Linked DNA regions of Homo sapiens. The protein of the gene in region 1 interacts with the protein of each later gene in a pairwise test. Each region holds a gene or a part of one and is shown in the gene's direction. Other genes may lie near its edges.

Evidence for each region. Proteins that work in one complex are often made in the same cells at the same time.
Region 2: the proteins of SNX18 (region 1) and PTPN21 interact in binary tests that used the Homo sapiens proteins (3 or more experiments, as listed by UniProt).

What each region holds. Positions count from the first base shown.
Region 1 is NC_000005.10:54,520,329-54,528,159, forward strand, and holds part of SNX18 (sorting nexin-18), read left to right. Parts: exon of another isoform or gene 1-718; intron 719-7,831.
Region 2 is NC_000014.9:88,545,008-88,552,007, reverse strand, and holds part of PTPN21 (tyrosine-protein phosphatase non-receptor type 21), read left to right. Parts: intron 1-455; exon of another isoform or gene 456-772; intron 773-1,388; 5' UTR 1,389-1,590; coding exon 1,591-1,770; intron 1,771-7,000.

The sequences.
Region 1 (7,831 bases):
AGTGTCTCTGACCTTTGCTAAAGCACCAGAATTTGCAAATTAAAAAAATATATAGCAGTAGTGCTTGTCTTAACATTTCTTACTAATGTGCATTCTCATATAATGCCTTGATTGAGAGAATGGGGAGGTGTGGGAGTTAGGGAGGCAGTCTTGCCTGTGAAAGTCCAGTGTAGGGGCGGCTGGGCAGGGAAACCTACTCCTGAGCAGGGAAACCTACTGTCCCTGTTTCCTCAGCGGGTCTGGCCTTTACTGGTGAAGTGCTCACTGCCTTTCTGGTGGGCCAGTCCGTTTATGAGCAACCCTGATCTCTGGCATGTCTTTTCTTGTATTGAACTGAAGTTTGCCTCCCTTGATTGTCTTTCTGTTCCCTGGGACCGCCTTCAGACATTTGGAGACAGCAGTCTCGCTTCCTTCCTCTCTGCTTCTCTCCTTCCCCTTCCAAATGCGTGACTGGTCTTCTGACTCCTATGGGGGAAGGGGCTTGCTGGGAGAATGATCAAACGTTTTCAGTCTTGTTGCTGCCGCTGAAAGGGAGTACCCTGGACATCAGTACTAATTTTAGTAGACAGTAGTAACTTTCTTGGCAATTTGCGATTTGTAAATGCAGTCTAATATTGAATTCGTTTTTTGTGCAATCATATTGCTGTTGGCCTGTATTAAACCTGTATTTACATTACCTATGCCTTTTTTTAAAACATAAATTGTTATGAATCTTTGACTTTTTTGACTGGTGTTGGTGGAACTGCCTTTGTGAGCCTTTAATGGAGGGATTTAGCATTTAAATTCCATTGTGTTACATCATTCTGGACCTATGCTGGCTGCCCTTTTACACATTTCTGTGAGTTTGTGCAAATTACTGGTGAACAGTTGAAAGGATGGAACCAAGTACAGACACTTGGACATGTGTGCTGGGCCGCTGGTGTCTGTCTACTTTAGGTTGGCATCAGTTCATTCACTGTCAATCACACCATGCACTCAGGCTTTGTCAAATGGCCTGCTTTTGAAATTATATATTAGAAAAGGTATGGTGTGTGTTCTAATATCTATTTTGAGTTTACAGCAATGGTCTACTTAGTCTATTAAACCATCTGGTTATGGCCAGGGTCACGCCTGTAATCCCAGCATTTTGGGAGGTCGAGGCAGGAGGATTGCCTTAAGGCCAGGAGTTCGAGACCAGCCTGGGCAACATAGGGAGACTCCCTTGTCTACAAAAAATAAAGAAGTTAGCGTGGCATGGTGGCTCATACCTATAGTCCTAGCTACTAGGGAGGCTGAGGCTGGAGGATTGCTTGAGGCTAGGAGTTAATTTGAGGTTGCAGTGAGGCATAATTGAACCATTGCCCTCCAGCTTGGGTGACAGAGCAAGACCCTGTGTCCAAAACAAAAAATATATAGCTTATTTACTTCTTTATTTATTTTGTAGAGACAGGTGTCTTGCTATGTTGCCCAGGCTTGTCTCTAACTCTTGGGCTCAAGCAATCCTTCCAGCTCAGCCTCCCGAAGTGCTGGGATTACAAGCGTGAACCACCATGCCCGGCCTAGTTTATCTTTTTTAAATTATAGAACTGGATTTGTCTCTAGTCACTTGGGATTTGAAAAACTTCCTTCATTAAAACCAGTATCATTTTATGTGGCTTAACAGATTCAAGAGCACTAAACATAATCTCTAGGAACTTTGGAAAGAACAGCAGTTGATATTCAGTATAGTTTGTTTCTGCTGTAACCTTGGTGTGTAATGTACAGTGAACCTGTGTCCCTGGATGACACATCTTTAGAAAATACTACCATTTAAAGTGACAGTGTGCGATACATAAGGCTAAAAGCATTTGCCTATAACCAGTGTTTATCAAGGATGCTAGTGTAGGCCATTTTTAGGAGTATAGATGAGACAAACATCATAAGCCAGGATAAAAGCTTTCTGAGCGTATTCAGGACTTGTGGTTGTAAAGAGCATCTCAATTCCGTCACCTCCCCAACCCCAACTGTTACACACTTGAAATATGGCTAATGTGACTAAGGAACTGAATATTGGTCAACAGAAATGATAGAACTTTTCCATCAGTGCTGAAAGTTCTATTGGACAGTGCTGTGTTAAACTGCTGGCTGCAGTTTAACTATCAACCCCATCGTAAGTTTCTCCAGCAAATTATTATATTTTAATATAGTTTCCTGATAGCTTTATTTTTACTTGGTCATCTCATTGCACCTCCTCCTTCCCATATAGGCTTAATTAATAAAAACTGGGAAGGGGGAAGCAAGTCCTGCTAGATTCTTCTTTGCTGAATTTCCCAAGCACTCAACCTGAGTGACATTTCAGTAGCGTGAGCATCTCTTGCAGTGTGCCTTTATGTCCCATTCAGAAAACACATTGGTTACGGGATGGATGTCTGAGGCCATCCTGGTGAGAACCCAGCTGCAAAATGAGGGTGGAAAACTCAAATACTCTTAAATGTTGGTGGGCTGAAATTTTCCTGACTATACTAAATACTGAACCCATTCTTTAAACTAATAATGGTTTTAGTGTACATACTTTCTGCAGAAGTGAAGAAAGCGATATACTTCCTTCAGCCAAAAGAGAATTCTGGAATTTTGATTTTTTTTCATCAACGGATGGAGTCTAACTATTTAGGTTAATGGAGTTGAGCGAAGAAAGACGGTAGTTTGCTGTAGTCTGCGGTACATTAGATGGGAATTCAGAATCTATTGGAATTTTATTTGTGTTTTGCTTTGACCTAATAGGAGTCCTTTAAGTTCTTTGTTCATAGGTAGCTCATCAATCCCTGACTAGGCAGTGTGCAGATGTTTGTCACTGACATGTAACCCCTGTGGTCTTGATTTTTTTTTTCTTAAGTGATAGCATTTTATCTTCTCCCTCCTTATCATGCCTGTCTGCAGTATACCTTTATAGTGTTGATGTTGAGGAGTTTGGGTAGTACTGAGGAATATATTTTATTATTAGTTTCTTGGCATATTCAGTTTTGTTTCCAAAGATATGATCAATCTCTAATATTTAATAAAGCTAAATCTAGGTGGCAGCAAGTTGAGGTTTAAAAGATTTAGGTTTACCTCTTGCGACTATTGCTAAAAGGAAGACTGTAAAAGATTATGAGAAATACTGGTTTCATCCTTGTTTAGGAATTTGGACTAAATAAAAATGGCTAGAGGGAGTTCCTTTAAGTGAAATGTCTTTCTTCTAGAGAAAAGGTGTAAAATAGTGTTAAATTGATTTGTCGATTTGGGCTGTGTGAAGCAGGGAGGCAGGACTAGATAAGTAAATAGGCAGTCCTGTTTTCTGTACTCTTAAATATACAGACTCTACTTCATCGCTCTCTAAATGTTCCAGATGGAGCCTTTTTTCAATAAAAGCCCCAGGACCTCAGGAATGGTATACCAGTAGTGGGCCTGTCAGTCTTGCTGGGTAGAATTTCACCATTGTGCTTCCTTTTACCACTAGTAGAGTTGGCCTGATGTCCTTCAGACATTAATTAAAGATAGCTGGAGTCCCAGCAGGGCACACAAGGTAAGGCTGGGCCACACGGAGACCCTTCCCTGTCTGCTCCCCATTCTCCTGTAGCTAAAAATAGCCCTGAAAGGGTGGTGCCAGGAATACAGAGAAAAGCTCTAAGAAGTTGGGGCTGTTTGCAAATTCATCCTTATTTTTGAAACCTCTGGGCTAGAAATTGAGGCTGTTCATTCTTTTTGTTTTCACTCCATCTTTAGTTGAACCCATTTCTCCTCTCCCCTGCATTTACCCCCAGCTGTTCTCTAAAAAGACCTCATGTCTCTAAAAAGAGAACAGGTCTGGGGCTTACCCTTTGCCCCAGTTTGTGTTTTCTTAGTGAAAATAAGGTGACCGTTGGTGCTTTCGAAATACACGACTCAGTTCCTTGGTTAAAATATAAATGTGACTGCCCAAGGACAGTCTTGGGCACGAAACTGGGTGTGGGCACCGCTCATACCACACCGTCAGGGGTTTCTCAGACTTCTTTTTTGAGCCACATAGCCTTCAGAGTCATGCCGACCACAGTGGGACCGAAGGGAGGCAGAGGACCTGCACTCCCACCCTCCTCCCAGTAACTCAGGGAGCCTATGAGGTTTCCTTGTTCAGCAATGTTGTCCTGTCTGGCCATCTTAGGACTTCTAAGCATAATGCCAGAACCCAAACAAGTGAGAAGTTCTGTGATTCACTTACAAACACTTCCCTTGAACTATTTAATATGTTCCTTCTCTTTGGGCTGAATAAAAAACTATTATTGTATTACCCCATGTATTTTTAAATCAAAGTTTAAATATCAAGTTAGATTTAATTTGCCATATATTTTTGAAGCTCTGTATCATTAACTAAAGGATTATAAAGTGGCAGAGTAATGCTGAGCTCTGTTTGACAAGATTATATCCGGAAGGCAGACGTGTATCATGTCTCATATTTATACAACACAGACTAGAATCTGGCCGCTCTGCCGGTGTCTGCAGGAGGGCTGGGTAGGCCTCTGGTCTTAAGTGAGTTATTTGACTAGCTACAGAGACAGGTCAGCCAGCCTCGGCAGTTCCTTGTGCCAGGATTCTGAGAGCCTGGTGGATGGGCCAGTCTGCCCCAGGAGTTGCACCAAGGGGTGGGACTGAGCTGGGTCTGCTGAGGAAGCTGTGCCAGTGAAGGGGCAGCATGCCAAGCCAAGAAGCCGTGGGTGCAGAGCCTCATCGCAGTGGGAGCTGGCCTGTCGGGACCAGCATGGGCTCTGGAGGGCCAGTGTGTGGGCATGGAGGAGTTTTGGACAAGCTATTTTAACCTGCGTAACGCTCACTTATCTTTGGCCAAGTGGGGGCACTTCCTCACGAGGTCAGCATGAGAATTAAATGTTATAGTTCATAGTAGCTAGTCACTAAATGTTTATTTTTGAAAAATAGATGGGTGAATTTAAAAGGAGATGACAACCAGGCATGGTGGCACATGGCTTTAATACCAGCTACTTGAGAGGCTGAGGGAGGAGAATCACTTGAGCCCAAGAGTTCAAATCCAGCCAGAGCAACACAGTGAGACCTTGTCTCTTTAAAAAAAAAAAAAAAATTAAGGGCGCTCTCCTTTGAAGGACAATTCCAGTAATCTTATCATCCCTCCTGGCAACCTATTGCCACCAGAATTGTAGGCAAAAGTACAAAAGCTCAAGGAGTCTTCAGTCTAGCAATTAAATATCTGCTTTAATCAGTTCGCCCTGTATTGCACACCGGAAGTAATGGCAACTGGGATAAATGTAGATGTTGTTTGGAGTCAATCGTTTGTTGTTGTTCACATTGAAGAGTGTATGTAAACTGTCTCCTCCTGGCTCCCCTCTAACCCAAATCACGTGTTCTGGTGCAGATCACTTAATGTTTCTGAGCTTCAGTTTCCTCATCTGTAAAAGTGAGGTTCATTATTTCCTAGGTACTATTTTGTTAGTTGACTTTTTTAAAAAAATAAGAGTAGTCTTAAGTATCCAGGAAACTTTTAGACATTGTTTCAGGCTGATTTTAATAGTGTTCTCTGTCTACTTATGTGACTGTTTTACGGGAGCATGAAAAGCCCTTATCAGTTGATGTGAAAGAACATTTATGCACGTTTAGTTCAGATCAGCAATCACGCATTGCAGGCTTACCTCACTAGGAACTTCGAATGTAAAAGTGATTAATACCTGGCCTGCTGCTGCCTGGTGAGGGTTCCCGGGTGTTCTGAAGCTGTGGTATGGTAGACAGCTGGAGCGACTTCTCTCTGACCCAAATTAATAGGACTACCAAAGAGATAAATTATGACAGTTTTTTAAAGATGGAGTCTTGCTCTGTCACCTAGGCTGCAGTGCAGTGATGCGATCTCGGCTCACTGCAACCTCTGCCTCGCGAGTTCAAATGATTCTCCTGCCTCAGCCGCCCGAGTAACTGGGATTACAGGCATGTGCCACCATGCTTGGCTAACTTTTTTATTTTTTTTAGTAGAGACGGGGTTTCACTATATTGGCCAGGCTGGTCTTGAACTCCTGACCTCAAGCAATCTACCCACCTTGGCCTTCCAAAGTGCTGGGATTACAGGTGTGAGCCACCGTGCCCAGCCTCTGATATTGATCTTATAGCTTGATTAAACTTTAATTTGAATGAGTTTTAGTTCACTTGTCATTTCTGTACCTTTTCTTATGACTTATCTGTCACTGTGATTTGACTTTCCTCTTCTGCTAAATAAATTGTTATTTAGCAGGTAAGGGGACAGTGAAGGAAGGGGAGATAAAATCATTAGATTTATTCATAGGACCCTCTAAAAGATAAACTAGATTTTATTCAACAAATACGTATGTACCCATCATCGTCCAGGCACTATTCAAGATGCTAGTGTTGCATCAGTGGCCAAAACAAAGATCCCCACCCTTGTGGAGCTTGCAGTCTAGCAGGGTGGAGACACTCAATGAAAAACAAACACAGGAGGTAAGTTTTGATGTATGTTGGAGTTTGGTATGTGCTAGGAGAAAACAGTAGAGCAGGGAAAGAGGGCATGGGAGGCAGGATGAAGTACTAGTAAGAGTGCTCAAAGTAGGTCTCATTGAGAAAGTGAGATTTAAGCAGAGACCTGAATCACTCTGGAGTCAGGAGAGTCGTCCAAGCAGGTATCTCGGGGGAGAGCTTTTCAGGCAGAGGGTTTAGCTAAAGTAAGGCCCTGGGGTGGACATGTGCCAGGCAGGTTGAGGAACAGCAAGGCCAGGTGGTTGAAGTTAAGAGGATCCTAGGAGATGAGGTCATGGAAAGTCAGATTTGCAAGGCTTTGCAGGTCACTGTTAGGACTTGGAATGAAAGCCCGAGTCAGATGGAAGCAATTACAGGATTTTGAGCCAAGGTATGACATCCAACTGGACATATTAACAGACTTAGTCCAGAGCAATGAGAATAGAATGGCGTGTGGCAGTCAAAGGTGGATGGAAGCAGGGAGCTAGTAGGAAATACTCCAGTAATCCAGGTGAGAGATGCTGGTGGCCTGGACCAGAGTGGAGACAACAGAGGTGGTGGTCGGGGAGCCGGGGGGGGGGGTCCCCCTCCAGCTATATTTTGGAGGTAGAATCAACAGGTTTTCCTGAGAGATGGGATTGTGAAGGATGTGACATGCAAGAGAAAGGGGAGTCATCAAGGGTGACTGTAATTTTGGCCTGTTTGGCCTGGCCTACAATAAGAATTGTCAGAACAGGGGTGGGGAGCAGCAATCAGGAATTGAGTTTTCTCCTTTTAGGTAGATCAGGCTCATGCATTCTGCTCCATGTCTCCCCACCCCAACACAAGCACTTTCTAGCTTCAGGTCTAGTCCCCTTCCTTGGAGTATCCCCCTTGGATTGTAGTCCTTTTGTGAATAATTGTCTGTGCGGTGCTCAGTTATTAGTGTGTGGGTTATGTTTTTATGTTCCTGTGTTGTATAGCTGTTAACTACTGTTTTATACATGCATAGCAAGTACTTAATGAATGCTTGCTGAATTAATGAAGTAGGCACTCAGTAGCTACTTGGTTGATCTTGAAATAGATTTATAAGATGTTTTTGTTTTTCCATTTATATGATGATGGATAACAGTCTAAAGTGTACAGGAAATAAAGATAGAATCTAGATGTATTTTATGGATGAAGTCATTAACATGTGAGTGATTTAAAAGTCTTAGAGTTTTGTGTTTATGAAATGACTTTACATAATTCATTGGGGAGGGGAGGGGAAGTTTGAAAATGCTTAAAGTGCCAGAGAATTAATATTGTATACCTCATGATTTCACTTTATATTGATTCTTGGTGTTTAAACTTACGCATGCATACACGCACATACACACACACACACACACAC
Region 2 (7,000 bases), on another chromosome or scaffold:
AGGCAATCTCTGCGCAGAAGGAAGGTAGGGAACCGTCTCAGGACCCTGGAAATGTCCGGGATTTTGTAGACTCGTTTAGGGGGAAAAAACTAATCCAGCTGATATAAAAATCCCCAGCTAGTGCTCGCCCCAGAAACCATCAACAGGTCTGGTTAAAAACTGTTAGAGCCCGGCTTGGTGGCGCGCACCTGTGGTCCCAGCTACTCGGGAGGTTGAGGCGGGAGGATCGCTTGAGCCCAGGTGTTCGAGGCTGCGGTGAGCTACGATGGCGCCACTGCACTCCAGCCTGGGTGGCATAGCGAGACTTCGCTCTATAAAACACGTTGTAAGGAGCGTATTTTGAGGTCCTGTGGCTCCAAAGCGGGCATCCTATGGGGCCCGCCCAACCTCTCCACCGCCAGTAGGGCACGCGCTGGTCCCTTTAAATGTTCCCTTCGGGAGCCGAGGGACCGGTCCTTTTAGAGCGCGTCCGTCCAGAAACGCGGCTGCAGAAAGAGGGTTCCGGGGCCTCCGAGTCTACTGGTTGGCCTGGCAACGCCGCGTGCTCTTCCCAAGGGGAGGACGCGGGAGAAGCCGGGGCCTGAGTGCTCCAAGGCCCCGTGGGCTTCTTGGGTTTGTTGCCTCCGGCCGCTCATTAACTCAGGATGGCGTGGAAGACCTCGCCCGCCTCCCCTTCTGGGCCGCGGCTCCGCTTAGGTGAAGGCCTGTTTGGGCGTCCCCACCCTGGAGAGGGGCCGGGGTCTGGATTTTCAGAACTGCCACTCTTCTAGTGGTAAATGGATAACGAGCATTTGTAGGGTCTTTTATGATGTTTATCAGTAAATCAATTTGATGACGTAAATACTTCCACAAGCGCTTGTTAGGCACCTCACCGGGTTTGAATCACACACCTGCCTTTCTTAGTGGGGATTATTCCTCCCATTTGCCTTCAGGGTTAATTTTCTAAAGGGATTGGGACTGAAACCTAGCTCTTTTGGGGCCATTTGGCACTTTTCTCACTTAAGGACTAAAGAACTCTGACATTTGGAGTATTACAACCTGAAAGAGTTACCTATGAAAAAACAACACCTTATCCAAAATAGGAAGAGGATCACAATTACTAACTACAAAATTTGGGATTATAGTAGTGCTGGCTATTATCTCATTTAATCCTGAGGATGGCCCAGTTTGCTATCCCTATTTGTAGGATACAGTGAAGGGTGGAGTCTGACCCTGAGCCTAGCACAACTCTGAGATAAAATTCCACCCTGCCTTCCGGGTCCTGTTAGTGCCTTTTTTCCAGTGGAGAGGGACGGCTTGTTCTTTGGCCACAGCTTGACTGGCTTTTCTTTATACAAGCAAAGCCCAGCGTTACGTTTGCTTAACTAACGGCGTTCCTCTTTCCCCAGCGCTGGCGTCAATGCTCCCTTCCTCGGGCCATTGGAGACTCCGTTGCTTTTTAATGGCGGCAGCGGCTGCTGGGTGAGCAGCTGGAGGCCGGACAGTGTTCGTCCCATCCGGAGAGGATCGCTTTCTCCTGGCGTCACCAGCGCTGGGTTGGTGGGGGTAGCTTTTCCCTCTTTGCTCCTCCATTCTTGAAGAAAGAAGAAGATGCCACTGCCATTTGGGTTGAAACTGAAACGCACCCGGCGCTACACGGTGTCCAGCAAGAGTTGCCTGGTTGCCCGGATCCAACTGCTTAATAACGAGTTTGTGGAGTTCACCCTGTCCGTGGAGAGCACTGGCCAGGAAAGCCTCGAGGCCGTGGCCCAGAGGCTGGAGCTGCGGGAGGTAAGCCACCTAAAGACACTGCAGGCCAGGCGCGGGTGGCTCAAGCCTGTAATCCCAGCACTTTGAGAGGCCGAGGCTGGTGGATCACCTGAGGTCAGGAGTTCGAGCCTAGCCTGGCCAACATGGTGAAACCCTGTCTCTACTAAAAATACAAGGCCGGGCGCAGTGGCTCACACCTGTAATCCCAGCACTTTGGGAGGCCGAGGCGGGCGAATCACAAGGTCAGGAGTTCGAGACCAGCCTGGCCAATATGGTGAAACCCCATGTCTACTAAAAATACAAAAATTAGCCGGACGTGGTGGTGGGCGCCTGTAGGGTGTGGTGGCGGGCACCTGTCATCCTACCTACTCGGGAGGCTGAGACAGGAGAATCGCTTGAATGTGGGAGGCAGAGGCTGCAGTGAGCCGAGATCGCTCCACTGCACTCCAGCCTGGGCTACAGAGCGAGACACCTGCTCAAAAAAAAAAAAAAATTGGCTGGGCGTGGTGGTGGGTGCCTGTAATCGCAGCTACTGGGGAGGCTGAGGCAGGAGAATCACTTGTACCCAGGAGGTGGAGGTTGCAGTGAGCTGAGATCACAGCACTGCACTCCAGCCTGGGCAACAAACTCTGTCTCAAAAAAAATTAAAAATAAATAAAAAAAACACGACAGGCTTCTCTGGCCCGCATGCTGGCTGTGTGTTCTAGCCCACGGGCCACTCACTGTGTGTCCCTGGCTGGGATGTCTGAGTTGAGCCTGTAGTCCCCTCCTCATGAAGCAGGAATAGATTAGATTAAGAAGTCTCCCCTTGGGGTGCCCTATAAGAACTAATGGTTCTTATTTTGAATATGTTTATATTCCCCCTCTAAGGTAATCCAGAATCAAATGTGAATACACTTTGGGTTGTTCAAATTTCCATTTTCTAATATACCCCCAAAGGTCATCCTGATCTCTAGTACAGTTTACTGACTTCATTCTTTCTTTTTTGTTCATTTTAATTTTTTTAGAGTCAAGGTAGGTCTAGCTATGTTGCCCAGGTTGGTCTCAAATTCCTAGGCTCAAGCGATCCTCCCGCGATAGGCATGTGCCACCATGTCCGGCTCTTGACTTCGTTCTTTCAACATTCATTGAGTAAAATTCATTGACTATATTCTTACAGGCCAGATCGAGGTTCTAGAAACATACTGCCTGAACTCAGTTTGAGTTCTAGTTTCCTCACCATCTGCTTCTGTTACCTTGGGCAAGTTATGTGATATCTCTGAGCCCCAGTTCTCCATCTGAACCATGGGGATGACTGTGACACCTAATTCTCAGAGTAGCATAAGGTTGTAAGCTCTGCTAACTAGTCTATTAGAGTACCGATTGGGAGGTTTGCCCAGGAAACCCCTAATCTAGTTGGTAGGAAGTTATGGAGTACTCATGTATCCATATAATGTCTTAAATTTAAAATGTTATGCAAGGCCTGTGAAGAAAGGTCTCTAATTAAACCTAGGACCCTCCCTACCTTTGGCTACCTGGTTCTTGGGTAAGGGAAAGTTAGAGAAACTGGTTATTCCACCTAAAAAGTCAGGAATAGATGAACTTTGCTCCTGGTGACCATCCAATCACTTATATGATCACTCAGTACTGAAGATGCGTAAGTGCCAAGCACATACATACTTGGAAGCTCACCCTAGTGTTGTTGCCAGTAAGAAAACAGGCATGATGCATGCTGTGATAAGGGAAGTAGAGGGTGTGCTATAGGCCAGAGGGAGGTGCAGCAAAGGGAAGGCTGCTCAGGGAATTTGATTCTGAGCTGTGACCTGAGGATGGGGCAAGGGAGTCCTATCAAGGGCTGGAGGAGTTCCAACAAAGAGAACTGCACAGGACCAAAGACGCAGAGGAAGCTGGTCTGCCTGAAGCCTGAAGTGCGTGGAGGAAAGGCCGACTGTAAGGGCCACACAATGAGGATTTTTTGTTAAAGGATTTAGATTTATCCTGAGGGTAGTGGGGAAGTTAATGAAGGGTGTAAACAGGTGTGGTACGATTGTTTCTGTGAAGAGTGAGCCCTTTGGAGAATGATTTGAGGGGAGTGGTTCAGGTACAGATGGTAGCCACCTGGAGTTGGATAGGGTTGGAGAGAGGTGGTTGGAATCTGGATCAGGACCTACCGAGTAATAGAGAAGGGTTAGCATGGGTCCTGGTTGATATTCAGGTTTTCAGTAGATGGTGGGGCTATAACAGAGAGGAAATGTGAAAGGAAGTGCAGATCTATTAGGGGCAAGGAGGAGCGTGTGGTGAGTTCAGTTTTAGAAATACTGAGTTTGAGGTGCCAGTTGGAGGTTTTGAATAGACAGATGGATCTGCTGATCTGGAGTTCAGGCATGAGATCCAGGTTAGAGGGAAGATATTGGGAAGTATCAGCCTAAGTGAGTTCATTAAAGCCAGAAGATGGTATGAGGCTCTCCAGGGGAGAAAAAGAGGACATCGCAGACCCCTCATGGTAGATTAGAGGAGGGGAAAGTGTTGGAAGGAAACTGAGATGAAACTGCCGAAGAAGAAGAAAGAAAACCAGAACAGCAGGCCTCAGTAACCAGTCCCTGCTTACTTGCATTTATTCTTTTTTAGGGATGAGGTCTCACTCCATCACCCAGGCTGGAGTACAGTGGCACCGTCATAGCTCAATGCATCCTCAAACACCTAGGCTCAAGTGATCCTTTTGCCTTAGCCTGCCAAGAGCTGGGACTACAGGTACACTCCACCACACCCAGCTAATTTTTTTTTTAACTTGTGTTTTTGAGATGGAGTCTTGCTATGTCGCCCAGGCTGGTCTGGGAGTTGTTTCCTCTAGTTATCTTCCTGCCTCAACTTTGTGAGTAGGTGGGATTACAGGCGTGTGCCACCTTGCCTGGCTTAGTGGCTTATATTCTATTTATTTATTTATTTATTTACTTTGGTTGCTTCGACTTTTTTTTTTTTTTTCCTATTATGGTTTCTTCTTCCTGTAATTTTCTTCCTCGTGCACCAGGTCTGTCTATAACGCCTAGAGAGTCAGCTTCTTGAGGAACTGTGGTTTATTTATTTTTATACCAGGTGTGGAATGTGTTCAGTAAATACAGGGAGAACTGAACCCACAGGCATTGCCTTCCTTCTGTTAATAAGTCCAGAGAAATTGCCATCCCTTGTTAGAAGTTATCAGTCTCAGGGAACAAGTAACTTTATATAGCTGTGGGTATATTTTGAGCCTGATTTTTAACAGAAGAGGAAACAGGCATGGTCCCTAGAAAATGTTTTGCCTGTGGAGAGTCTGTCCCACAATTTCCAACATAAATGTAACAGTCATGGGTAGAAAGTTTGTATAGCAAACTTTTTCTTTGAAAGCCCCAGAAGCTCTGCTCTGTAGCATATAAACAGATGGCTCAGGCATCAGGCCTAATCTTAACAAATGACTGTTCAGAAATAATCTGAGTGGGGTCACACCTGTTTCTAGTTTGTACATATAGTCTCTGTGTGATTCATACCAAGAAATATCAGTATGTTGGTTTCTTGCACTGTTCTCCCACCAAGCAAATCTGGAATTATCGCATATAGATTTGGGTGGAAAACTTTGCTACTGTCCAAATATAAATGGAGGGAAAAGTCCCTCTTGCTTAATTGAATACCATTTCACTTCTATAATGACAATTTTTTTTTTTTTTTTTTTTGAGATGGAGTTTCACTCTTTTGCCCAGGCTGGAGTACAATGGCGCGATCTCGGTTCACTGCAACCTCTGCCTCCCGGGTCCAAGCGATTCTCCTGCCTTAGCCTCCCCAGTAGCTGGGATTACAGGTGCCTACCACCATGCCCGGCTAATTTTTGTATTTTTGTATTTTTTTTTTTTTTAAGTAGAGATGGGGTTTTATCATGTTGGCCAGGCTGGTCTTGAACTCCTGACCTCAGGTGATCTGTCCACCTTGGCCTCCCAAAGTGCTGGGATTACAGGAGTGAGCCAACGTGCCCGGGCCTATAATGACAGTTACAAGGGCCGCACAATAGTATAACACTATACCCAGGGGTTTCAGCTATATCAGTAGTGTTTCTTACACTGGGTATATGGGTATTTTTTTTGTTTGTATTTTTAGCTGTCATATTTTTACAAGTGTCTAAGATATTTTGTATTAAATTAAAAGCAACGTGGTTAATATACATGTATCCAATGTAGTTAACTTAGGTTGCTAACTTTCTTTTAAATTCACCATATTTGAACTACAGAAAGTAACTTCTTTTTTTTTTTTTTTTTTTTTATTTGAGACAGAGTCTCGCTCTATCGCCCAGGCTGGAGTGCAGTGGCGCGATCTCGGCTCACTGCAACCTCCGTCTCCCAGGTTCATGCCATTCTCCTGTCTCAGTCTCCCAGGTTCATGCCATTCTTCTGTCTCAGCCTCCCAAGTAACTGGGACTATAGGCGCATGCCACCACGCCCGGCTAATTTTGTATTTTTAGTAGAGATGGGGTTTCACCGTGTTAGCCAGGATGGTCTCGATCTCCTGACCTCATGATCCGTCTGCCTCGGTCTCCCAAAGTGCTGGGATTACAGGCGTGAGCCAAAGTAACTTTTAAAAATGGGAAAATGAATTATTCCCTTAGGAAAATATTGCTGTTCGTTATAGCAGTAGTTTCTCAAAGCTGTTGAAATTCCCTGCCTATCATTCTTCTGAGTTTCAAAACATTTTTTCAAGAGAGGCTGTGAGTCCTTGTGGAATTTAAGGGGAGCTAGAAAATTTTCTCCAATTTTAAAAGCATATGCTGTAGAGGCTTGAAGGAGGTGGTGACACAAGTGGCCACCTGGGCATGGGCACTGCCTGGGGCATCACCTTGACGGAATCAGCACAATCCAGAGTGCAAGAGTCAGGCTCAAAAATCTCATGTCATGGGAAGACCTGATTTAATCTAGCTCGCTAAAAATGATGTGTAAAACCAGGACCCAAGTTTAGTAATTTATAAGCAGTAAGGAACTGCCAAGGGTCCCAGGTATGTGTGCCCTCTGCCTAGGCCAAGATTTTCCTATAGTTAGGGCACATGGGAACCAGAACAAACCAGAAGTTTCTTGGTGAACATGGAATCAGAAGAATGTTACCTTGAAAAAGTAGATATTTTCATAAGTCGGCCAGGCGCGGTGGCTCACGCGTGTAATCCCAGCACTTTGGGAGGCCGAGGTGGGCAGATCACCTGAGGTCAGGAGTTCAAGACCAGCCTGGCCTGGCCAACATGGTGAAACCCCATCTCTACTAA